3 separate regions of the Homo sapiens genome follow, and regions 1 and 3 are each linked to region 2. The links come from fine-mapping of genetic effects on gene expression. A gene starts in region 2. Each other region holds a variant in brackets. All regions are shown on one strand. Distances are from middle to middle. Region 1 overlaps ZZEF1 (zinc finger ZZ-type and EF-hand domain containing 1). Region 2 holds the start of ZZEF1 (zinc finger ZZ-type and EF-hand domain containing 1). Region 3 overlaps ZZEF1 (zinc finger ZZ-type and EF-hand domain containing 1).

What was found. PIP is the estimated chance that this variant, and not a neighbour inherited with it, causes the effect.
Region 1: its variant is the best candidate, but not a certain one, in a credible set for the expression of ZZEF1 in thyroid (GTEx, PIP 0.58).
Region 3: its variant is the best candidate, but not a certain one, in a credible set for the expression of ZZEF1 in monocytes after Pam3CSK4 (Quach 2016, PIP 0.62).

Annotation. Positions count from the first base shown.
Region 1 is chr17:4,090,150-4,098,415 of GRCh38, forward strand. It overlaps ZZEF1 (zinc finger ZZ-type and EF-hand domain containing 1), which reads right to left. Exons shown (of 55, transcript NM_015113.4): 10 at 6,460-6,551; 11 at 5,682-5,830; 12 at 570-681. Among named protein-coding and RNA genes, the nearest start is that of ZZEF1, 49 kb to the right of the region's middle. The variant C/T (reference allele first, on the strand shown) is at 4,061.
Region 2 is chr17:4,139,386-4,147,651 of GRCh38, forward strand. ZZEF1 (zinc finger ZZ-type and EF-hand domain containing 1) reads right to left here and starts at 3,645. Exons shown (of 55, transcript NM_015113.4): 1 at 3,157-3,645. The coding sequence starts at 3,510. CYB5D2 (cytochrome b5 domain containing 2) reads left to right here and starts at 3,812. Exons shown (of 4, transcript NM_144611.4): 1 at 3,812-4,620. The coding sequence starts at 4,371. RefSeq lists a silencer at 3,371-3,540 and enhancers at 3,406-3,957, 3,621-3,930, 3,958-4,510, 4,081-4,660.
Region 3 is chr17:4,047,443-4,055,708 of GRCh38, forward strand. It overlaps ZZEF1 (zinc finger ZZ-type and EF-hand domain containing 1), which reads right to left. Exons shown (of 55, transcript NM_015113.4): 34 at 6,615-6,753; 35 at 4,529-4,694; 36 at 3,339-3,601; 37 at 2,266-2,417. Among named protein-coding and RNA genes, the nearest start is that of LINC01975, 74 kb to the left of the region's middle. The variant A/G (reference allele first, on the strand shown) is at 4,866.

The DNA.
Region 1 (8,266 bases), 49 kb before region 2:
CCACACACTGTAGCCTGGCTAAGGATGCTGTGTTCTCAACTATTCTCTCAGCCTGAGACGCCCTCCTCCACACACTGCAGCCTGGCTAAGGATGCTGTGTTCTCACTATTCTCTCAGCCTGAGGCGCCCTCCTCCACACACTGTAGCCTGGCTAAGGATGCTGTGTTCTCACTATTCTCTCAGCCTGAGGTGCCCTCCTCCACACACTGTAGCCTGGCTAAGGATGCTGTGTTCTCAACTATTCTCTCAGCCTGAGACGCCCTCCTCCACACACTGTAGCCTGGCTAAGGATGACAACTTAATCTTCAACATTTGACATCACACCACCCTTCCTGAGAAGCTTTCGAGTTACATATTTTTCCCCTGGTTGCCAACAGCTCTCTGTCTCTCCTTTTATCACAGCTCGTATCACACTGTCTTACACATCTGTCTCTCCCACAGAGTATGAACTCCCTGAAGGTAGATTCGCCTCTGGGGTTGTAGCATTGGCACAGGGCTGATACACAATCACTACTCAAAAAACACAGAATAAAAGGAGGGGAGTGGGCAAACGACGCACTAATGCTTACTTTGGCAACTCTGCACTGTTGCAGCTTCACATCTGCTTCATCCCATTCTTCTTCCAGTTCAAACCAGCCAATAGGATCATCCTCTCCAAGGTCATCAGATGAGCAACCAATCCTGTAAAGACAAGAGTATTCACAAAACATTTTATTTTGAAACTTCTCAAGGGTCTAACAAATAAGGTATCATCTAAGTGACATGTAACTTGTATCTGTAGCCTGTCAGTGAACAATCGAGAGCTGACTATGGTACATGGTACCCTGTGAGCACATGAGACAGTTGGTAGTATTGCCTTTCCATTGCTCAGTCTCCTTCTCTATGAACTGGGAAATATAATCTGGGAACTAAGGAGAAAGTTTGCTTCTCTAATTGGCTCATCTGAAGAATGAGACAGAAAGTCGGGCATTGTGGATGACTCAGGAGTAAGGTCCAATGCAACAGCTGGCATGTGCTTCTGGAAAGTGCCAGAAAAGAGGCAGGCTTGGTTTTCTTTCCCTAGGTCTGGCTAACATGTTTATGACCAACCTGAGGTTTGGGCCACTTGCAATAGCTGATGGGTAAACATCTGAGGGCTTTCAGATCCTGGAGGTCCAAAAAAACAAAAACCCCAGCCTTCGTAGGCCTCAGTATTCTTGTCTGTTTCTTAAGAAGTTCTTTCAGAAAAACATTCCAGCCTTGAGGCTGAAGAGATGTCTTCTCTTCTTTTTAAGAGAATGTATGCCACTTCTTTTTAAAAGCTGAACACTTAAATGCTACTCCCTTTTCAGGAATTAAGTAACTAAGATGTGCTGGGCACGATGGCTCACACCTATAAGCACTTTAGGAGGTTGAGGTGGATGGATCACTTGAGGTCAGGAGTTTGAGACCAGCCTGGTAAACATGGCGAACCCTGTCTCTACTAAACATACAAAAAATTAGCCAGGCGTGGTGGTGCACACCTGTAATCTCAGCTACTCAGGAGGCTGAGGCAGGGGAATCACTTGAACCCAAGAGGTGGAGGTTGCAGTGAACTGAGATCACGCCATTGCACTCCAGCCTGGGTGACAGAGCAAGGCTCCATCTCAAAAAAATATAAAAATAAGGCCGGGCACGGTGGCTCACACCTGTAATCCCAGCACTTTGGGAGGCTGAGGCAGGCAGAGCACCTGAGGTCAGGAATTCGAGACCAGCCTGACCAACATTAAGAAACTCTGTCTCTACTAAAAATACAAAATTAGCCAGGCGTGGTGGTGCATGCCTGTAATCCCAGCTACTCGGGAGGCTCAGGCAGGGGAATTGCTTGAACCCAGGAGGCGGAGGTTGCGGTGAGCCAAGATCGTGCCACTGCACTCCAGCCTGGGCAACAAGAGCGAAACTCCACCTCAAAAAAAAAAAAAATAATAAAAATAATATAAATAAATAAGAAGGAGAAAAAGAGCAGTTTTTTCAAGTAACATTCCTAAAACTTTACACTATTCAGTCTGTGATATATAGCCACCAAGCTGGCGACACATTAGTATTTTATATAGGTAAAACTACCAAAAAGAGGGAATTATGGCAAGAAGACAATCCCGAGTAGGTTCTGTAACAGAGAGAAAACATGTCCCTTTTTTTTTTTTTTTTTGAGATGGAGTCTTGCTCTGTCGCCCAGGCTGCAATGCAGTGGCACAATCTTGGCTCACTGCAACCTCCACCTCCCAGGTTCAAAAGATTCACCTGCCTCAGCTTCCCAAGCAGCTGGGATTACAGGTGCCTGCCACCACACCTGGCTAATTTTTTTGTATTTTTAGTATAGATGGGGTTTCACCATCTTGGCCAGGCTGGTTTCTGACCTCAAGTCCTGACCTCAAGTGATCCACCCGCCTCGGCCTTCCAAAGTGCGCTAGGATTACAGGTGTGAGCCACTGTGCCCGGCAAAATGTCCCTTCTTAACATAAGTCTTTCTTGGCATAAACCTTTCATGACACAGTTAACCCTAATGGGAAACGGTATTCTCTTAAGCCAAAACCATGTCAATGAGTTTCATCAATATCATAAGCTTAAAGATTTTTTAATCTACTCTTTGGGAGTTGTCAAGGAAATCTTCGAGATACAGAAAGCTGGCAGGGTATCAGAGAACAGAGAGAAGCAATCTTGTTCCCTACACTGCACTACATAGTAGGCAAGATGGAAGACAGATGAATCCTAGTCCTCTGACGTAGGCACAGCACCAACTGCTGACCCTGGAGCATGCTGACTGACGAACGCCTGACCAGGAGGACATGACCAAAAAAAAAAAAAAGGCAAAAAGAAAATGCATGCACATTAATATTTTGATTTCCAAACTGGAGAGGGACTGGTGAATATGTAGGCCAACAAAATCACGATTTAAGAGTCATTCAGGCTGGAATCAGGAGCTAAAATCATTAAGGGAGTGGTGAATAGGCCTCTATTTAGGTTAAAAAAAAATCATCCTGTATAAGATGTAAAAGACCTTGTTTAACAGCAGGTTTAGGGGAAATGACCCATTTTAATTTGTCCCAAGAGTAGGACATAGCTGCCTAAAACCCAGTGTCATCTCTAGTTATTACTTTAAAAGAAAAGCAGTGTTTAAAAAGGCATACACGTGTAACGGAAGGGAGATTTTAGGAGTGAAAGACATTTGTTCAAATTCATTAAAGGGCTGAAACGAAGACCACTGAAGAGACATTACAAATGTGGATTTCAACTGAACAAATTCTGATTACTGAAGTGCCTGATACGTGGTGAGTTTTCCATCAACGGTATTGTAGAGAGGCTGACCGAACCTTTGCCAGGAATGCTGCTAAAGGAATTGCAGCAAGAAGAGCGAATTATTCGAATTATTCTAGATCCTTACGATTTCAAGTATGGTCCACAGACAGGTAGCATCAGAATCTCCCGAGAGCCTGTAAGAAATCAGTCTCAGACCCCACCCAGAGCTCCTGAATCAGAATGTGCATTTTCACAAATTCCCTGGCTGATGTGTATGCACACTAAAGCTCAAGGAGTACTGCAGTGGATGGTACTGAAAGGCTTCTATTAACACCAGCAATCCACTACCCATGAAATAATGCAGGCAAGTTCAGGGTTTCAGCTCCTTGAGTATTTTTTTTTCTTGTCTTAGCTTCTTCAATTTTAACTCACTAGTAGCAATAGGGGAGGTAACCTTATCCAAGGGGGCACCAGTGGCTACATCCGACAGATCCACTTTTAGACTTTACCTTCTGACTTCTGGGTAACATCTGACACCATCGCCCATTCCCTCAAACATTATTTTCCCTTGGCTTCATGGGACACAGCTTTCCTTCATGAGGCCCTGGCTTTCCTGCTGCTTGTCTGGCTGAGTTTTCCTTGTTGCCCCTTAAAGCCTGGTGTGTCTCATGTTGACCTAAGTTCTCTTCTCTTCCCAGTTCACACACTCTTGCAGAATGATCTCTTCCACTTCTACATTTTATTTATTTATTTTTGAGGCAGGATCTCACTCTGTCACCCAGGCAGGAGTGCAGTGGCGTGAAGA[C/T]AGTTCACTGCAGCCTCAACCTCCGGGGCTCAAGGGATCCTCCCGCCTCAGTCTTCCAAGTAGCTGGGACTACAGGCGCGTGATACCATGGCCAGCTAATTTTTATGTTTTTCTTTTTTTTTTAGAGATGGGGGTCTCACTATGTTGCTCAGGCTGGTCTCAATCCCCTGGGCTCAAAATCCACCTATCTTGGCCTACCAAAATGCTGGGATTACATGCATGAGCCACCACACTTGGCCTATTTCTACATTTTAAATTATCGTTTAAATGCCTCTCATATCTGTACCTTCAGCACAAACTTCTCTTCCTGGCTCCTGACCTGTTTATCCATTGGCTACCGATTATCCATTGGCTACCGAACACCTCAAAGGTTTCTCAGAACTTCAAATTCAACAGAACAAAATCTGAGCTCATCATCTTCCCCACAAACCTGTTTTTCCCCAGAGTAAGAAAGGCACTACCAATTTCCCCACCTGCTCAAGCCAAAAGCCAGGATTCACTGCCGATGAGGCTTTTTTCCCTCTCCTGCTCCACATTCAGTCAATCACCAGGTCCTGTCGCTTCTCCCTCCTAGTGGTCTCTTGGTCCACATCTCTGCACTGCTGCTGCTGCTCTAGTAGGAGTCACCCACTGGCTTCCTAGGCAATAAGTGACAACCTCCTCCCAGCCCAGCTGCCTCCAGACTTGCTCTCCTCCAGTCCATACTACACACAACATGATCCTGACCAGTGCTTCTACAACATGCATTTGAGCCCCCTGCTTTTCTGGAAATGCCTCAACACATTCCCCTGCCATTTCCCCTCACATGATGCTTTAAGGATACAGAAACAGAGACAAAGCCCTGAATGCCCTGCCCTTTCCCAGCTCTCCAGCTGCATCTCTCATCACCCTCCCTCCGAGTATCCCTCAGCAATGCGGGACCTGCCCGTTCCTTCAATGTGCCATGCTTCACCTCTGGGCCCATGAAGCTGCCCTCTCTGCTTAGGACATTCTCCTTCCAGTGGCCGATCAACTCCAACTCATCCTTCATAAACAGCATAACAACACTTGCTCCAGAAAGATGTCTCTGATCAGGAGGGCCGCTCTGCCCTGTGTCCCCACAGCGCCCTTTCTCCCCTACAGCACATTCATAACACTGTTGATACTGCAAGTTTTCTTACCTGTCTTCTGAGCTAAACAGTAAGCTATATAAAGCAAGAACTGTGCCAATTTCCTCATTACGGTATCTTCAGCACCTAGCATCAGGCCTGGCACACAGTAGGTACTTAATAAGTATTTGTGTTAAAAGCAGGAATGGGAGAAGGGGGGTTGGGGCAATGGCTAAAGACTGCAGGCTGTCCACAATTCAGGCATAGATAGATCATTACCCAGCCATTGTGAAGATGTGTGCCCCTGGCCACAAAAGGGACTGAGTAACATGCTATGAACAAATTAACATACACATCTTCAGATATGCTACTAGAAAGCAATGAAGGCTTATGGCCACTGAGATGGATTAGTGGCGCCTTTTCTATAAAGACAAGCAAGCACAGTTCACCAATGAGCATGAATACATTCTTATTAACTACAAAGATTTTTGTTCTGTAGATCTTTGTTCTACAAAGATTTTTTACCTTCTTACCTGCTTTTTACAAATTGCCTGAGCTCCTGAAGCTTCCATTTGTCATATTTTTCAAACCTTTTGAAGTGTTCTTCCGCACAAAATTTATCTGAAGATGAGTTATAGGCAAACACCAACCCACACTGGGCACCAATGCCACCACGTCGAACCTGGAAACAGAGATTAGGATGAAGTCTATCAAAGGGGCAAAAGTTCTGTGGCCGTTTTGTTTCCAGCATGGTTAAATTCAAACAGGTTAAAACAAAACGAGACCAATGAAAAATATTTCAAACATATTAAGCCCTCAAAAAATAAGAAAGCTGTTTCCCAAGAAATGTTCCTTAACTTTCTCAATCCTTATATTCTCACCATTTCAAAGACTTTACAGTCTATCCATCTTTGTGTCCCTGCCCTCTGCTACAGGCCTGACACAGAGTAAATCATCATTAAATGTTCAATGAATAACCAATGACATGGTCAGCCATAGGTCTGACTTTAAAAAAAAAAACCAAAACACCAATGACGTGGACTTCTGAAATGTAATAAAAGGTAATATTCAATAATAACCTAATTGTACATGGAAAAGTAACTACAACAGTGTAATGGATTGTTTATAACACAAAGACTAAATGCCTGAGGGGATGAATAGCTCATCCTCATCCTCTGTATGATTATTTCACATTGCATGCCTGTATCAAAACACCTCATGTACCCCACAAATATATATACCTACTATGTACCCATAAAAATTGAAAACAAAAGTAGTAACATTGCTTAAAGAAGGTAGCACGAAAATTACCATAATTCTTATCTGTGTAACTTGGAAGGCAGATTCAGTTCCGGTAGAAAAAATAGTGCTGGCTCTGGTTTTTCCAGTTTCCGTAAGAAAACCTGAAAAAAGGGAAAACTCAAGTTAGGGAACTAACCCATTTTTATAGCCCTAAGAACTAAGATCAACAAAAACAAACCATATCCTTTGAGTCATGGGGGGTAACTGGTCTGATATCTTCACGAAAATTAGAGAAAAATGTCCTCTTTGGACAGAGGCAACCCCGATGATAAAGCCCCAGGTAAGCAGAGAACTGACCAGGTTCAACTTTCCCAGGGCACAATCCCCTCCACCTCACAGGCAGCCCTGCTCTGAGGTAACAATAAGAAAATAAATGTTTAGGCCGGGCACAGTGGCTCACGTCTGTAATCCCAGCACTTTGGGAGGCCGAGGCGGGTGGATCACGAGATCAGGAGACGGAGACCATCCTGGCTAACACGGAGAAACCCCGTCTCTACTAAAAATACAAAAAATTATCCAGGTGTGGTGGCGGGCGCCTGTAGTCCCACCTACTCGGGAGGCTGAGACAGGAGAATGGCGTGAACCCGGGAGGCGGAGCTTGGAGATTGTGCCACTGCACTCCAGCCTGGGCAACAGAGTGAAACTCCGTCTCAAAAAAAAAAAAGAAAAAGAAAAAGAAAAAGAAAAGAAATGTTTATAAAACATTTAAGCCAAAGCGACAAAAGACTGGACAATCAATCATCTTCCTGAGCCACACCTACAACCATGGCTGATGGCTGCCTGGGCTGATAAAGCCTACTGGCTTAGTGGCTGAGAAAGGGATTAGTTAGCTTCTACAACACTTTGTCAGGAAAGGTTATGAAAGGCTTTGAAATGGGAAAAAAAAAAAAAAAAAAAAAAAAGAATCACTGGGTGTCCTAGCCAACATACCCTTTCGGTCGTCTCTGCCTTTTATGGTCTCTAAACTATTTTACAATTCTGTAAGTTGTAGAACACTGGTAGTGATGCACATGATTCTTGTCCACAGAACTAAACACTGTGTTCTGTGGAAATGTTGCTGATTATTCCTTATGGATACTGACCAACATTCTATCTATTTGTAAATTAATTTTAGCATTCTTGTTAGTCTACATGTATTTTATGAATTCTCCTTAGAACTGTTTGTAACATCTTACTGGTTCCCTCATTAATTAATGAGCTAAATAAAAAGTCTGGGCCAGGCACAGTAGCTCATGCCTGTAATCCCAGCACTTTGGGAGGCTGAGGCCAGTGGATCACTTGAGCCTCAAAACCAGCCTGGGCAGCACAGTGAGACCCCATTTCTACCAAAAAAAAAAAAAAAAAAAGCAAAAATCAAGGTGGGTGTGGTGGCTCACACCTATAATCCCAGCACTTTGGGAGGCTGAGGCAGGCAGTTCACTTAAGGTCAGGAGTTCGAGACGAGCCTGGCCAACATGGTGAAAACCCCATCTTTACTAAAAACACAAAATTCGCCGGGCGTGGTGGCACACACCTGTAATCCCAGCTACTCAGGAGGATGAGACAGGAGAATCGCTTGAACCCGGGAGGCGGAGGATGCAGTAAGCTGAGATCTCACCATTGCACTCCAGCCGGCCTGGGTGACAGAGTGAGACTCCAACTCAAAAAAAAAAAAAAAAAAAAATCAGCTGGGCACGGTGGTGCACACCTGCAATCCTAGCTACTTGGGAGGCCAGGGTGGGAGGATCGCTTGAGCCTGGGAGGTGGAGGTTGCAGTGAGCTATCATCACAACACTTCACTCCAGTCTGGGCAGTAGAGTGAGACCCTGTCTCAAAT
Region 2 (8,266 bases):
TCTGTTTTACCATGTTAGCTCTTATAAAAACGAATGACGGAAACAACTTGTCATTTTAGTTGCTACTATAAAGACATTACTTCACAAGCCCTTCATCTTGCAGTAAAATACAGCAGTATATTCTCAAAAGCTTAGACGTAGATTAACAACGCAGAATTAACTGTGTAAGTATGCACAAAAGTATATACTTATTCAAGTCTAAGGATAGACATTCTTAAAGCACAGAATCAAATGCATGGCTAAATCTTATCTTCTTTGGCTAGTCCTAACTTACTAGTTCTTACAGACAGAGCAGCCATCACAAGATTATCATGAGAGACGGTGGCCACTGTGAGATTATCACAATCAGGTTTTTAAACCTTGGCTAAGCCTCACTCACAGAACTGTATGACCTAGCTATGTGAATCAAAGACTGCCAAATATAACTCAATGTTTTCTCTCCCCTTCCTCAATAATTAAGCCCTGAGTTTTAGCTGAATATATGGCCACGGAAAAAGAATCTTTCCCAGCCTGTCCTGCAGGTAACTGCGGCCATGTGACTGAATTTTGGCCTGTGGGATGTAAGCTATGCCCGTAAGAGAGTGGGCATGGCTTCTTCCTTCTCCTTCCCTTTTCCCTTTCTTGCTTGTTGGAATGTGGAAAATGACAGCAGGAGTCAACAGAATTACTAAGTGGAAGATGTCCGTGGAGGATGACAGCACAAGATGGACGAAGCCAGGTCCCTGATGATGACAACACTGCCACATCAATCTTGGACTGCCTACCTGGACATTTTCATAAGGAAGCAGCTTCTTTTTATGTTTAAACCACTGATGCATTAGGTTTTCTGTCCCTTGAAAAAGTTTTGTGTATCCCTAATACACCACACCAGACTTCTTCCAGATTCTCTGGACTTTGAACTTTTGTGGATACAATTTCCTCTGCCTGAAACGCTGTTACTACCTCCTGTAACACTATCTGCTTTCACCATTCACCTGTGGGCTGAAATGTTACCTTCTCAGGTAAGTCTTGCTTGAGCCCCAAGTGAGGTTAAATACACTTGCTATTTATTCCTTATACCTTCCCCCTCGGTTAACACTCACCATATCTTATAATTAATGGGTTAATACCTGTCTCTTCCACCACAACTACATACTCTTTAAGAGCAAGTATCTGCTTTGTCCACTGTCATCCAAGTGAGTGGCACTCGATATACGCCCAATAAACATTTGCTCAGTGAACAATAATGCCACAACCCCTGAGTGATTTCTGGACCACACCTCAAGTATTTCTTGACCTTCTATTAAGGGACTCCTATGAACTCTACATAAAGTTCTATTTCTGTCAGAAACTCTCAGAATGTAAACGGTGTTTCTCTCCATTTGCCTTTGCTCAAATCTGCAAAGTGCCATCTCCTTCAACAGTTCTGCATGGTTCTTCCCACTACTACTTCATATTCTCATAATACGCGTAGATACTAGAAAGAAGGTACTATGTGTATTCCTGGGGGGAAAAAAAAAGGAGATCTTTCACTAACTAATATGACTTTTTTTTTTTTTTTTGAGACAGAGTATCGCTCTGAGGCCCAGGCTGGAATGCAGTGGCGTGATCTCAGCTCACTGCAACCTCCGCCTCCTGGGTTCAAGCGGTTGTCCCACCTCAGCCTCCCAAGTAGCTGGGATTACAGGCACCCGCCACCATGCCCAGCTAATTTTTGTATTTTTAGTAGAGGTGGGGTTTCACCACGTTGGCCAGGCTGGTCTTGAATTCCTGACCTCAGATGATCCTCCCGCCTCAGCCTCCCAAAGTGCTGGGATTACAGGCGTGAGCCACTGCGCCCAGCCATGACTATTATTTTTAAGGGTTGGGATGCCTTAAAGGTACTTTTTTCATAAGAAACACACAAACTACATTATCTGAATTCTGGCCATGTACAGGAAGACATTCTTAAAATATTTTAAAAGCCTCTGATTTTAAGGTGAACAGAACCTTTTAAAGGCACTGCAAGTACCCGCTGGTTTACTGCTTTATGTACACACCCTTCGTGGCCACTGAAGATTCTACATGACTGGCTAACTCATTTTCACAAAATAAGTACCTTTTTGGTCATACCGTGGTGTTAAAAGAAATAGGATCCCAGGAAGGAGGTAGTGAGACATTAAAAACAAAAAATAGGGTGCGGGTGGAGGGAGAGAGAGCATCAGGAAGAATACCTAATGGATGCTGGGCTTAATACCTGGGTGATGGGATGCTGTGTGGAGTAAACCACCATGGCACACGTTTACCTATGTAATACATCTGCAAATCCAAATCCTGCACATGTACGCCTGAATTTAAAATAAAAGTTGAAAGAAAGAAAAAAAAAAAAAGCAAGAGATCTAGTTGATAGTCTGTTTTACTAATGATTCACTGGGTAACCCTGGATCAGTCTTCTTAACTCGAAGTGAAGCGCCCAGTAAATAAACTCCCAAAATGCCTTCCAAGGAAAATATTTTGTTGCCAAATCAATTTGCTCTCTTAATGACTTAGCAGACATGATCTTGGTGATTATATGAAGAACTGCATAATTACAAGTATTCACAGGAAACCTGGTATTTGCCTATCAGTTTCGGATCCTATGAAGGTTTAAATGAGTCTAATATATGGTTCTTTAAGGATCTACAAACCAGTATGTATTTTAGAAAAGCTAGTTTTTGCATGAGGAGGATAGGTTTTAGAATGTGAGCCTTTCCAGCATGTTACTACTGTCTTTCCACACTTATTCGGCGCCCACACTGAATTGGGAAGGTGCTGTGTAAAAACCTGGACAGGACAATACAAAAAATGGTTCTCAGCGCCACTCCTCCTATCCTTACATCTCTTTTCTCTCCAAACTGTTCGAGAATCTGATAGAAGATCTCCAGAGTAGCGTCAATCAACTGCACAAAGGTCTGCATTACAACATACAGAGAGAGACATATGGGCTTGTCCAGCTCTTCAGAGCAAGGACGGCCTGATGCAGACTTTCCAGACCTCTAACATAGGTTAAAGAGAAACGAAGCAAACGCCTGGTGAAAAGCTGGAAACACCTCATATGGGTCCCCGCCTGGCCTCTCCAAAGCAAATGCCCACCTCTTCCTTCAGTCCCCTGGGGGCGACCGCCCTGCCCCATCCCCGCAGTCGCCTGCCGGCCCTGACCTCCTCGAACTGCTCGCTAGAGCAGCCGGCGCCGCGAGCCTCCAGCAGCTCCCGGAACTGCTCCAGAGTGACAGACTCTTCGCCGCGGCCCAGCCGCTCTTCCAGCCAGCGAAACAACGCGCCGCGATGCCTCGACACCAGCGACTCGCAGGGGGGTGTGGGCAGCAACGCTGCAGCAGCCTCTCGCAGCCTGGCCGGCTCCAGCAGCGCCGCGGCGGGTGGTAGCGCTGGAGCCGCGACGCCCGGGCCGGGGGTCGTGCCCGAGACCGCGGCCCAGTCCTGGTGTGGGCCCCAGCCCTCGCCACCGGCAGCTGCCGCTTCGTCTTCACTGCTGTGACTCGGAGCGTTCCCCATGGGGTCTCCGTCTTGGGCGCCTGGCTCTGCAGCCGCCGCCGCCGCCTCCCCGCCTCGACCTGTCAACCTCCGACAGCAGCTGGCGGGCGGGGACGCGGAGGAGACGACGGCGGCCCCTGCGGCTTCCGGCTTCCTGGCCGTCAAGCGACGACCGCTGTCGCAAAGGCGCCGTCACGTAGATAGGCGGCCTCTACCAACTCACGACAGCTAGGCGGGGAGCGCCGCCTCAAAGGGTGCAACCTTGATTTCCCAGAGGACGAGTCTGTCTCAGTATCTACGTCATTCCGTAGCCTCCGCTGCCGCCATCTTTGTTGGGGCTGACAACCTGCAAGCCAAGAAGTACGAGAAGGGCCAGGCGCGGTGGCTCACGCCTGTAATCCCAGCACTTTGGGAGGCCGAGACGGGTGGATCACCTGAGGTCAGGAGTTCGAGACCAGCCTGACCAACGTGGTGAAACCCTGTCTCTACTAAATACAAAATATTAGCCGGACGTGGGGGCGCGTGCCTGTAATCCCAGCTACTTGGGAGGCTGAGGCAGGAGAATCGCTTGAACCCGGGAGGCGGAGGTTGCAGTGAGCCGAGATTCCGCCAGTGCACTCCAGCCTGGACAACAAGAGCTAAAACTCTGTCTCAGAAAAAAAAAAAAAAAGTACCTGGAAAAAGTCGCAGACAGCGAGCTTTTCGCCAGTGCCAGGAATACAGATAAAACGAGAGAGACTAAGGGAGGGAGCGCGAGCACTAGCGCGCGAGAGAGAGAGCGAGAGCGCGCGCGCCGATGACGTCACGCTCGGCGTCTCGGCCATCTTAGCTGTAGATAGAGGCGGCAACCTCGGAAGTGCGGAGCGGGTGGGCCTATATAGATGTTGAGGTGCGGAGGCCGTGGGCTTTTGTTGGGCCTGGCTGTAGCCGCAGCAGCGGTAATGGCAGCACGGCTTATGGGCTGGTGGGGTCCCCGCGCTGGCTTTCGCCTTTTCATACCGGAGGAGCTGTCTCGCTACCGCGGCGGCCCAGGGGACCCGGGCCTGTACTTGGCGTTGCTCGGCCGTGTCTACGATGTGTCCTCCGGCCGGAGGCACTACGAGCCTGGGTCCCACTATAGCGGCTTCGCAGGTATCAGCGAGGCTGCTCACGCCTTTCTCTCCGCTGGCGCGAGCCAGTAGCCACCTGCGCGTCGTTCGTTGGTTCATTATTCATCTATTTCCCCCCCCATCCCCACCCCACATCCATCAAACCCGTGCGGTGGGCGGGACGAGCTGCATGCACTATCCTTCTAGGCTCTCTGGCTCTGGCGGGACTGTGGGCCAGCTCTGTCATCCACCACCGCCCTGCGTGACTTACATTGGAGAAACATGTCTTCTGTCTCTTGTTACCCATTACCCAGCGTCGGAAGCCCTAGGATACGGGCTGTGTGCCGGACTTTTGTGGGGGCTCTTAGGGCACAGATAAACGAGATCCCGCCCCGCCCCTACCCTCACAGTTTCCTTAATAATTCCAACCATCTCTTCATTATGCCCTGGTCCCAAATAATCTTTCTTCCCCCCACCCCTAAGCATAGTGTTTTCAAGGTTCATCCATGGTTTATGAGCATGCATCAATACTTTATTCCTTTATGGCCCGTCATATAGTACATTTGGTCTGAGTCATTCCTGCTTCTAGTACAAGATGCACCTGTTTGCCTTCCTTAGAAGGTTAGGGCAGAGGAAAGGGGTCCAGTCACCTTTACAGTCCTTGATACGTAGACCAAAGTTGTGCATATGTTAGGCCTCAAGAAACATTTGTCAAATTAAGTTTATGCTGGTGTCCCTGTGTTACAGCTGAGGGGGTTAAAGGATGCGATTTGCCTGAAACCCTCACACCTGAATACTGACAGAATATGGACTCGGACCACCAGTCTAGTGCTTTTTTTTTAAAGATGGAATCTCGCTGTGTCGCCCAGGCTGGAGTGCAGTGGCCTGATCTCGGCTCACTGCAAGCTCTGCCTCCCGGGTTCACGCCATTCTCCTGTCTCAGCCTCCCGAATAGCTGGGACTACAGGCGCCCACCACCACGCCCGGCTAATTTGTTGAATTTTTAGTAGAGACGGGGTTTCACCATGTTAGCCAGGATGGTCTCGATCTCCTGACCTTATGATCCGCCCACCTTGGCCTCCCAAAGTGCTGGGATTACAGGCGTGAGCCACCACACCCGGCCAGCCTAGTGCTTTTTTACAGATGTTGCCTTGCCAGCCAGCGGGACTGACCTCCAAAATTTAAAAAGAAAAAAAAAGTGCAGGGCAAGCCTAAGATCAGCTACTAGGCTGACATTAAATAAGCATTTTCCACTTGTCATTATCTTAGGGGAATTGGGAAGCTGCCTCTAGCACTTAAAATACAAGCCACTTCCCTCTGTCTAGGAAGTACTAAAGAAATACAAAAGTTGACAGAAAAGGAATGAAGTCCAGTTGGTCTCGCAAATCCCCTGAGATAGTCCAGCAGGGGAAGGGACTTACTCAGGGGTACACAGTGAGTTAGAAGCAGAGCTGGGACTGGAATCAAGGTGTTTTGTCGCTGCTAGTTGAAGGCAGTTTTCGTTGCGCTGCCCTGCTGCGTGCTGTGGGAGCTGTCGTTGGATGTTTGCACAAGTGTGGGCATAAAACCTTCGATGTCTGGAGTGCTTTTTATTTTTCAGTGTGCTCTGCTGTTTACTGAGCTCCCGTGTTCTGGTATTCATTGACCATCTTTATTTACCACTACCTACCTTGTGTCAGGGGCTGTGGAATCCAAGATGTCTGCAACATGCTCCCCACCGCCCACACAGTCTAGTTGGGAAGCAGTTATGTCCACGTATTCGTTCATTCAGTATTTTATTTCTCATTGAGATGTAATTCACGTGATGTAAAGTCCTTTTAACGTATACAATTCAGTGGGGTTTTTTGTTGTTTAGAGACAGGGTCTGCCTCTGTCACCCAGGCTGGCGTGCAGTGGCATGATCTTGGCTCACTGCAACCTCCGCCTCCCAAGCTCAAGCAATCCTTCCACTTCAGCCTCCCAAGTAGCGGGGACCATAGGTGTGCACCATCACGTGCAGCTAATTTTTGTATTTTTTGTAGAGATGGGTTTTCGCCATGTTGGCCAGGCCGGTCTTGAACTCCTGAGCTCAAGTGATTCAGCCGCTGAAAGTGTTGGGATTACAGGTGTGAGCCACTGCCCCCAACCTTTTTATTTATTTATTTTTATTTTTCGAGATAAACTGGTTCTTTAGCCCAGGCTGGAGTGCGGTGGCGCAATCTTGGCTTACTGCAACCTCTGCCTCCCGGGTTCAATATTCTTGTGCCCCAGCCTCCCGAGGAGCTAGGATTACAGGCGTGTGCCACCATGTCTGGCTAATTTTTTTTATTTTTAATAGAGATGGGGTTTTGCCATGTTGGCCAGGCTGGACAGGAAATCCTGGCCTCATGTGATCCACCTGCCTAGGTCTCACACAGTGCTGGGATTATAGGTATGAGCCAAAATTCAGTGTTTTTTTTGTTTTTTTGAGATGGAGTCTCACTCTGTCGCCCAGGCTAGAGTGCAGTGGCGCAATCTTGGCTCACTGCAAGCTCCGCCTCCTGAGTTCATGCCATTTTCCTGCCTCAGCCTCCCGAGTAGCTGGGACTACAGGCGTCCACCACCACACCTGGCTAAGTTTTTGTATTTTTAGTAGAGACGGGGTTTCACTGTGTTAGCCAGGATGGTCTCGATCTCCTGACCTCGTGATCTGCCTACCTCAGCCTCCCAAAGTGCTGGGATTACAGGCCTGAGCCACCGCGCCTGGCCCGGTGGGTTTTTTTTTTTAGTATAGCCAGAAATTTGTAAAAATGTCACCACTAACTCTAGAACATTCTTCTCACCCCAGAAAGAAACTTCTTATCTATTAGCAGTCACTCCTTATTCCTTCCTTTGCCAACCACTATCTACTTTCTTTTCCTGTCGATTGGCCTATTGTGGGCATTTCATGGAGTCATACGTGTGGCCTTTTGTGTCTGGCTTCTTTCACCTAGCATCATGTTTTAAGGGTTCATCCATGGTGTACCAGCATGTAGCAGTGCATTATTCCTTTATGGCTGAAAATATTCTATAGATACTATAATTCTAATAATATGGATATACCACATTTTATCTATCAGTTGATGGATTTTTGGTTTCTTTCTACTTTTTTTGCCTGTTATAAATAATGCCACTATGTACATTCATGTACAAATGTTTGTGTGAGCTGGGCACAGTGGTCCATGCCCGTAGTCTCAGCTACTTGGGAGTTGGAGACAGAAGAATCCCTTGAACCGAGGAGGCAGAGGTTGCAGTGAGCCAAGATCGCACCACTGCACTCCAGCCTGGGCGATACAGCGAGACTCTATCTCAAAAAAGAAAAAAACTATGTATTTAATTCGTTTGATATTTACTGGGAATTTACTAAAGATCAGGCACTGTACCAGACACTGGGGAATCCATAGTAAATGAGTTTGGTGTGTTGTCTTACCTGATAAAACTTACTAGTAGAAAAGACAGACATTAAATAGATATTAAATAGATATTACACAATTAATGTATTATTTTTGTGAAAAGTGTTAAAAGGAAAAGTACTGGTGTTACCAGAGGCTGTAACCGATTTGAAGAGGAGGAGAGGAAGGGAGCAAAGTGAACAATAAAGAACGTGGCAGTGGCCAGGTGTGGTGGCTCACGCCTGTAATCCCAGCACTTTGGGAGGCCAAGGTGGGCCGATCACCTGAGTTTGGGAGTTC
Region 3 (8,266 bases), 92 kb before region 2:
GAGACCAACCGGGTAACATGGCAAAACCCCATCCCTACAAAAACTACAAAAATTAGCTGGCATGGTGGCATACACCTGAAGTCCCAGTTACTTGAGAGGCTGAGGTGGGAGGATCGTTGGAGCCCAGGAGGTGGAGGTTGCAGTGAGCCAAGATCATACCACTGCACTCCAGCCTGGGCAACAGAGTGAGACCCTGTCTCAAAAAAAATAAGAAAAGTGGCCGGGCGCAGTGGCTCACGCCTGTAATCCCAGCACTTTGGGAGGCCGAGGCAGGCAGATCACGAGGTCAGAAGATCGAGACCAACCTGGCTAACATGGTGAAACCCGTCTCTACTAAAAATACAAAAAATTAGCTGGGCGTGGTGGTGGGCGCCTGTAGTCCCAGTTACTTGAGAGGCTGAGGTAGGAGGATCATTGGAGCCCAGGAGGTGGAGGTTGCAGTGAGCCAAGATCATACCACTGCACTCCAGCCTGGGCAACAGAGTGAGACCCTGTCTCAAAAAAAATAAGAAAAGTAATAGATTTTTATCCATTGAATTAAAAAAAACCCATAAAAAAACCCTATTAAGTCCATTCTGACATAAATAAAAGGATAAACGGGGAAGCACAGTGCTTATGGGTGGAAGGTTAGTTTTAAGATGCTGAGGGCTCACAAGAAGATACAAATATTCCCAGGCTCAAAGGTGAGGACTACTGATTAATCCCATTTCTCCTAACAATGTTCTCTTTGTTCCCATCATAATCCGTGGGTGGTTAAAGTGCCGCCTACAGAAGACGTTTCATGGAAAAAATGTGGACGGTTGAGAGACAGGCTTGATGATTATGTGGCCTGTCTTCTACTGACTCTCTGGCTGAATGGAAATAATAAAAATGTTGATGTTTCTGCTGGCCAGTTTTGCTTTTGTATTCCTCCACATGAGAATGGGACCTTGGTGAGCTACAACCACCAGATGGGGGAATCCTTGAACTAGCAACCTGACAGACAGAGGACAGCAACATCAGCGACCCCTGTGGCAGTCAAGGGCCTTTTCAGCAGAAACACAAGCTCTGGAGGCAGCATCATAGAAACAATGGCGTGCTCTTCCATAAAACAATCTTTAGTGCCACTATCACAGGTTATACCTGGATCCAGAATAGCTTTTCTGTTTATGCAACTATGTGTAAATTACTGCGTCTACCCGGTAAACAGTAAGCATCAGTAACACCTAACTGTTGACTGAATATAAATACAGCTACACCGATACAGTGTACACCATGGGCTAGGAATGACTTTTTTTTGGTTGTTTTTTTTGAGATGGAGTCTTGCTGTCGCCCAGTTTGGAGTGCAGTGGCGCCATCTTGGCTCACTGCAACCTCCGCCTCCCGGGTTCAAGCGATTCCCCTGCCTCTCGAGTAGCTGGGACTACAGGCACGTGACACCAGCCTGGATAATTTTTTTTTTTTTTTTTTGTATTTTTAGTAGAGACAGGGTTTCACCCTGTTGGCCAGGCTGGTCTTGAACATCTGACCTTGTGATCCGCCCACCTTGGCCTCCCAAAGTGCTGGGATTACAGGCCACTGTGCCTGGCCAATTAATTTCTTTAGGTGCACAATCTTGTTTAATTCTTATAAAAACTACCAGGAGACAGGTAATGGGAGTGGTTAACACAGATATGGAACTTACTATCAACTCTTCTAAGCACTTGACATACAGTAGCTCAAAGTACGTCATATATACAACTCCTCACAATAAGCCTATGTTACAAGTATATCATCATCCCCATTTTATAGATGAGAAAACTGAGGCAGGCTGGGTGCAGTGGCTCATGCCTGTAATCCCATCACTTTGGGAGGCCAAGGCCAGAAGATCACTTGAGCCCAGGAGTTCAAGACCACCCTGGGCAACATGGCGAAACCCTGTCTCTACAAAAAATACAAAAATTAGCCAGGCATGGTAGCACATGCCTGCGGCCCCAGGTACTCAGAAGGATGAAGTGGGAGGATCACTTCAGCCTGGGGAGGTCAAGGCTGCAGTGAGCCAAGATCACGCCACTGCACTCCAGCCTGGGTGACAGCGAGACCCTGTTTCAAAACAAAACAAAAGAAAATAAAACAAACACTGAAGAGATGATAACAACATGCCCAAGGTTTGATGGAGCAGGCATGTGAATCCAGCAGTCTGGGTTAGGAGTCTGTGCTCTTAACCTCTCTGCTATGCTGCACTGAGTGAATGGCTCTCTCTAGAGTTCAACCTGTGATTCTGTGTAGTAAAGAATCGTCATTTACATTGCCTGCTTCTGACAGCTCAGCACCCTGGACAGCTTTCTTCTCTAGCTGCTCCTCTGACGCTCCGGTGGGCACAGTGACTGGTAGGGCCTGATCTTCTAGGCTCGAGTCCCCATCTGGCAATACACCCAGCAAAGCTAGAGCTTTAAGGCCTATGTGGGAAGCAAATCAGAGAATGGTTAGAAGTTTTATAATGAGAGTTCTTTTCAGCAAGTGCCATAAGTTACTTTGCCATTATATAGAAATAAATAAATGAGTTCTGCACAAACCAAATCCTAGAGGACTCAACGTGAACATCCCTCGCTGTCTAAATCTACTCAGCTCCTCCTCTCAGATGGTGAGAGGCTGAATAGCAAGGGATACCTGCACTTTATACTTTATTAACAACAGAAGATAAAACATATAACAGGATTGTCTATTTAGAAAATAATCAACATTATACTTTTATACTAGCCCCACACAATCAGACTGCTCAATTCTCACTGGCAAACTGGTATGGGAACTGCTCTAAGGTGCTGGCGTTACCCATGTGCTATCTCATACAGGCCTGGTTCCCTAATGTTGACTAGAATGGGGATGCCATTATCTGAAGGAACTTAGATGTCTCCAAGGTTTAACTTTCAAGTTGCTTTCTTCCCACCACTCCTTAGTCGAGTCAGATTCATGTCGATATATTGCTAAACTATTTTACTCGTAAACAGCTCTCATCTAGAATACACTTGTGTGGAAGCAGATTTACACTCCAGGTTAAGAAGTCTGGATTCTTTCAGCAAAGTTTGGTAGATTCAAATACTAGACTGCATCCACAGATATAAAGAGTTTTAATTATTATTTAAAATTAGTTTGAGGTATTAATATTAGTTTCAGAGAAATTAAATGTTGAACTTCAATGCCAACATTTCTCTAAAATCCATCGGGGAACTTAAAAATTAAGTTCCACACCAGGGTAAGCCCCTTTTGTGGAAAAGTGGATGTTGCCACCTGTAAACTAAGCTTAGTATTTTACATTTGCCAAGGCTTTTTTTCACCAGCAACTGAGGGCTGGTTTTGGTTTCTGTGCATTGGGAAGTCACCTTTTCCCTGATGAGCCTTCATCAGACAGTCCCCGACGAGCTGCATGCACTGGCTCCGCAGGGTGGTGGCACTGCTGCGCGTCTGGGGGTCCAGCTTCTCCCCATCCACATCCTCTGCACTGGCCAGGTGGGCGCTATAGAGAGCCAGGGCAGCAAAGAGCAGCCAGGAGTAGTTATGGATATATGGCTGGATGAGCCTCTGCCGGTCACTGATCCGAATGGTTACCATTGGGTGGGCCGTGATGCTGTGGGTAGGCAAATGGCTGCAAAGGCAAGACACATTTAAAGCTTACAACCCTCCAAAAGCTTTTGTGGCTCCAAACAGGAGCACAGGGCCTTAGGAGAGCATGTGGTCGCAACTGGGCATTAGTCACCTCTAGGATGCGCTTACTGAAAATGTAAAGAAAGGTGTGGGCCCTCTCTCCAGAAAAATGAAGAAACACAAACACAGAACATGCCTTTCAGGGTTTCACAATCCCCAGAGGTTGTCTGCAGAAATTGGACTAAGGAAGAATTGCTTATTGTGATTTTGGAAGGTGTGGTAATAGCATTTTGGTAATGTGAATAAAACCCATAATTTTTAAAGGGGGGTATAAAGTATGTAGGAAGGAAATAATTTAAGGCCTGGAATTTGCTTTATTTATGTATTTATTTATTTGAGATGGAGTCTCGTTCTGTCGCTCAGGCTGGAGTGCAGTGGCGCAGTCTCAGCTCACTGCAACCTCCGCCTCCCAGGTTCAAGCGATTCTCATGCCTTAGCCTCCCAAGTAGCTGGGATTACAGGCACCCACCACCACACCCAGCTAATTTTTGTATTTTTAGTAGAGACGGGGTTTCTCCATGTTGGGCAGGCTGATCTCGAACTCCTGACCACAGGAGTTCGCCTCGGCCTCTGAAAGTGCTGGGATTACAGGCGTGAGCCACCGAGCCTGGTCCTGGAATTGGCTTTAAAATACTTTAACACAGGAAAAAAAAAAAAAAGCAATAAACTAAGCACACATTACAAAATCTTCCTAACTGCTGAACCTGGGTAATGGGTACATGAAGGTTCACTGTGTTAGTCTCTTTACTTTTGGTTATGTTTAAATTTTTAAATAAAAAAAACTTTTTTAAAAAAAGAAAGAAGTCCCTTTTCAAGTGAAGGAACGTGTAAATAAAAGGCTTGGTGGCGACGGTCACTTGAGACATACCCGTAGGAGTATTTCTTCGCTGCATAGCATCCGTAGCAAAGATCAAAGTCATCGCAAACATTGCAGTTCATCCTCCGGCCTATGATCAAACCCTGGCAGTGGTCACAGGTAAACTCCATGTTGACCATTTCATGGTCGTCTCCGTGGCCCTCAGGCTTCACCCCACCTGAGGAGAAACACAGCAGTGTGAGGGGATGAGGTAGAGGGCTCCTAGATGGGCTAGTTTCCAAACCCAAACCAACCCCAGCACCAGGGCCGTTCCCAAGTGACTGCTCAGGGATACAGGGCCCACAGGCGTTCTCTGGAGACAGGGTGCTCTGCCTGGGTGGCTCAAGGC[A/G]TATGAATGAGACTCTTGGCACAGAATTTCTCGGCAATGGTACAGTGAGATCAAATGCATTATCAGGACTGCTGTTTGGTGGAAACAAGTCCACATGTTAATTTGTGAGCTGTCTCCTATGACCCCTCCACTAACAAAGAGTAAGCTTCTGTTGATGTATTCCTGTTAACAAGCACTGAGGACTGATCAGGATATTTGCTCTTCCTTTTTCACTCCAGAATCACAGATGAAAACAGACTTCCAAAATAAAAAAATAAAAATTAAAAAATTAAAAAAGGGCCAGGCGTTGTGGCTCATGCCTGTAATCCCAGCACTTTGGGAGGCCGAGGCAGGCAGATCGCTTGAGTCTAAGAGTTCAAGACCAGCCTGGGCAATATGGTGAAACCTCGTCTCTATTGAAAATACAAAAATTAGCCACGTGTGGTGGCAGGCACCTGTACTCCCAGCTACTTGGGAGGCTGAAGCAGGAAAATCACTTTAACCCAGGAGGCAGAAGTTGCAGTGAGCTGAGATGGTGCCACTGTACTCTAGCCTGAGGGACAGAGTGAGACTTTGTCTCGGGAGGGCGGCGGGGGAGAAAAAACCAGACCCAGACCCAGTGAGTGAGAGAGAATAACAGTCAGGAAAGAGATGGGCTGCACTGGTCTCCTTCTCACTCTAAGGCCCTTGGGCCCTTCTCACTCTAAGCTCTGTCATGGACCCTAAAGAATGCTCCTCGCGCCTGGCCCACTTCTGTTCATTCTCACTGTCATGAACCCAGTCCAGGCTCCCATGCCTGTGTGAATACTGTGACTGATTTCCTAAAGGAGACTCTTAGCACTGACAGAACCACCTTCCTCTAGCATAGCTCTCATCATGTTATTAATAATACCTACTTCAAAAACCTTCCCTGCTGTCTCTAGACTATTCAAACTCCTTAGCCTAGTATCTTGGGGTCCCACAGTCGGGGGCCCCACCTGTCTTAATCCATCACTTAGTTGGGCAAACATTTCAGCATGGCCATCTAAAGTCACTACAGACACTCCTCTGTCCCAGGGTTTGCTATGCCCTTGATGGTGATACCATCCCCAACGTTTCCTACACATCATCCAGTTCTAACTTCCTTCAAAAACCAATTCTCATTCCACCTCCTTCACGAGCCTTCCCTGCAGCAATGCTGCTACTGCTTCTAAACTTTTCCAGAAACAATCTGTACCCTCCTTTATAACTCAGCACACACATTCTTGTACTGGAATAGACATTCTGTGGATCTGTCCAGTCCTCCTGCTGGACTGTAGATGGTTCCAGGGCAAGGGCTGTCTCTTACCACTGGGCCATGCACAAAAAGGCCAGTCAGGTGTGCACTACTGTGCATCTGTTTTACCTCAGCACCTAGAAGTCAAGTGTACGAGGATTTTTGAAGCTTGCTTGTGTATGTGTGCGTGTGTATTTTGCTACATGTAAACACTGCATGATTCAGAAGCAAACACTATTTCCTGAAAACTCCACTGAACATACATACACTGGTCCCGAGTGTTTATTATGTGGCTACACCCAGCATGATAGAAGAAGGAAGCACGACAGATATTAGGGCTGTGGAGCTTTTCATTTAGTTGAGGAGATAAGGCTCATGTTCGCCAAGAAGTCAGAGAAAATACCACTGGGCAGTACTTTGATTTAGTACACTGAGAGTTTTTAAAAATGACAAGATCATAGAAATCAGAAGTGATATTGCCTTTGGATACGGCGTACCCAGTTCATGAAATTTACCTAGGAAGCAAGTTTTGCAGAGATCCATGTCGCTGCACTGCAGACAGCGGTATCGATGCCAGGGGGCAATCTCATCACACCCATCACAAGAGATGTCCACATTTAACAGGTCACAGTAGCGAGCAATGAACATGTGCATCTGTAAGGCCAAACATATACAATTAACTGATAGATTTTCTAAGGTGGCCACAATTCACTAATCAATTCCTCCATTCACTAGGTACTGAAGATGTTCCAGGCATTGTACTAAGTGCTAGGATTTGATAATGAATAAGCTCCTCAGTGTCTAGTTGGGAATTCCATCAAGGAGGTGATGACCATTTAGTATGACCAGTGCTTTCACAGGAAATTGCAGGAGGCTTAGAGGACAGAGGACTATGGCTACCAATGGGTATTCAGAAGGTCAAAGAAGGTTTTCCAAAGGAGATAATTCCTCAGGTGAGACCCAAAGGACAAACAGGTACTAGACGGGTCGGGGTAAGGGAGGTGGGCATGTCAGATAGAAATAGCAAATTTGACAGACAGCAAAAAGGGGATGAGAGACAGGTTTATGAAACTGGCATGACTCAGTGCGTCGAATACAGTACAGAGGGGAAGAGTCAGATGAAGAGAGAAAGGTTAAACCACAAAGGGCCTTGCATATCAGTCTTAGGAGTTACAGATTGTTTTTAGAGAGAAGAGTAATGTGATCGGACTGGAGTGCTCTTCTGGAAGTTGAGGAAAGAATGGATCAAAGGGGCAAGCCTGGACTCAGTGAGACTGACCATGACCAAAGCGTTAAAGGAACCCCATGGCACATTATAAGGGCTGGGACTGAGTAGTAGGCGGGATGGTGAAAGGTGCGTAGATTTGAGGTGTTGAGGCAGAAGTGGGAAACCTTGGTGACCGACTGGATATAGGGATCAGTAAAAGGGAAGAAAGTTTCTGGCTTGGGTACGTGGTTGGACGATGGTAGTGTTCACAGATACAGGAAACACTGCAAAAGGAGTACTGTCCCTGGCACTTACAGGCAAACTTTCTGCAGGGATAGTCTGGGTACTGTCTAATGAGCAAACAAATTGCTTTACTGGAAAGTACTTGGACTACAGTATTGTTTCTCTTTAGGGCCTGGAAATGAGGGATCTAAATCAGTAAGTCATACAGTAGACCAGAGCAAATATGCCAAGTCACCTTACAACTACAGAACTCCCAAAAGGTATTAACATATGCGAGAGAAAAAGCCACAAAGGCCCACTTGGCAAGCTCCATCCAAGCACCACAGTGGTGCTACGTGAACAAAGTGGTTGGCACATAGTAGGCACTCGATACTTAGAAAATGAATGAATCTGAGGCAGCAGATGCTTGGCACATGTGGTAGCGATGGATTTAACACCTGACGTGGAGATGGACACAGTGGGCTATCTGAGCCTGAGCCTTTGCACATCTGAATCATGCAGCTCTGATGCCCTCTCTATACATAACGGCTGCTCCCATGCTCACCAGGCAGCCTTCTGATGGAAACGTGGCTTCCCACACTGCTTGTCTACAGGAAGAGAATGTGCTGCTCCAAGGACACTAGAGCCCAGGCCCTCCAGCAATTCTATTTCTCACTGTAAATTAGTAAACTGGCACCTCATATTGTACATCAGCTTTAAGAGCCAATTTTTCAATGA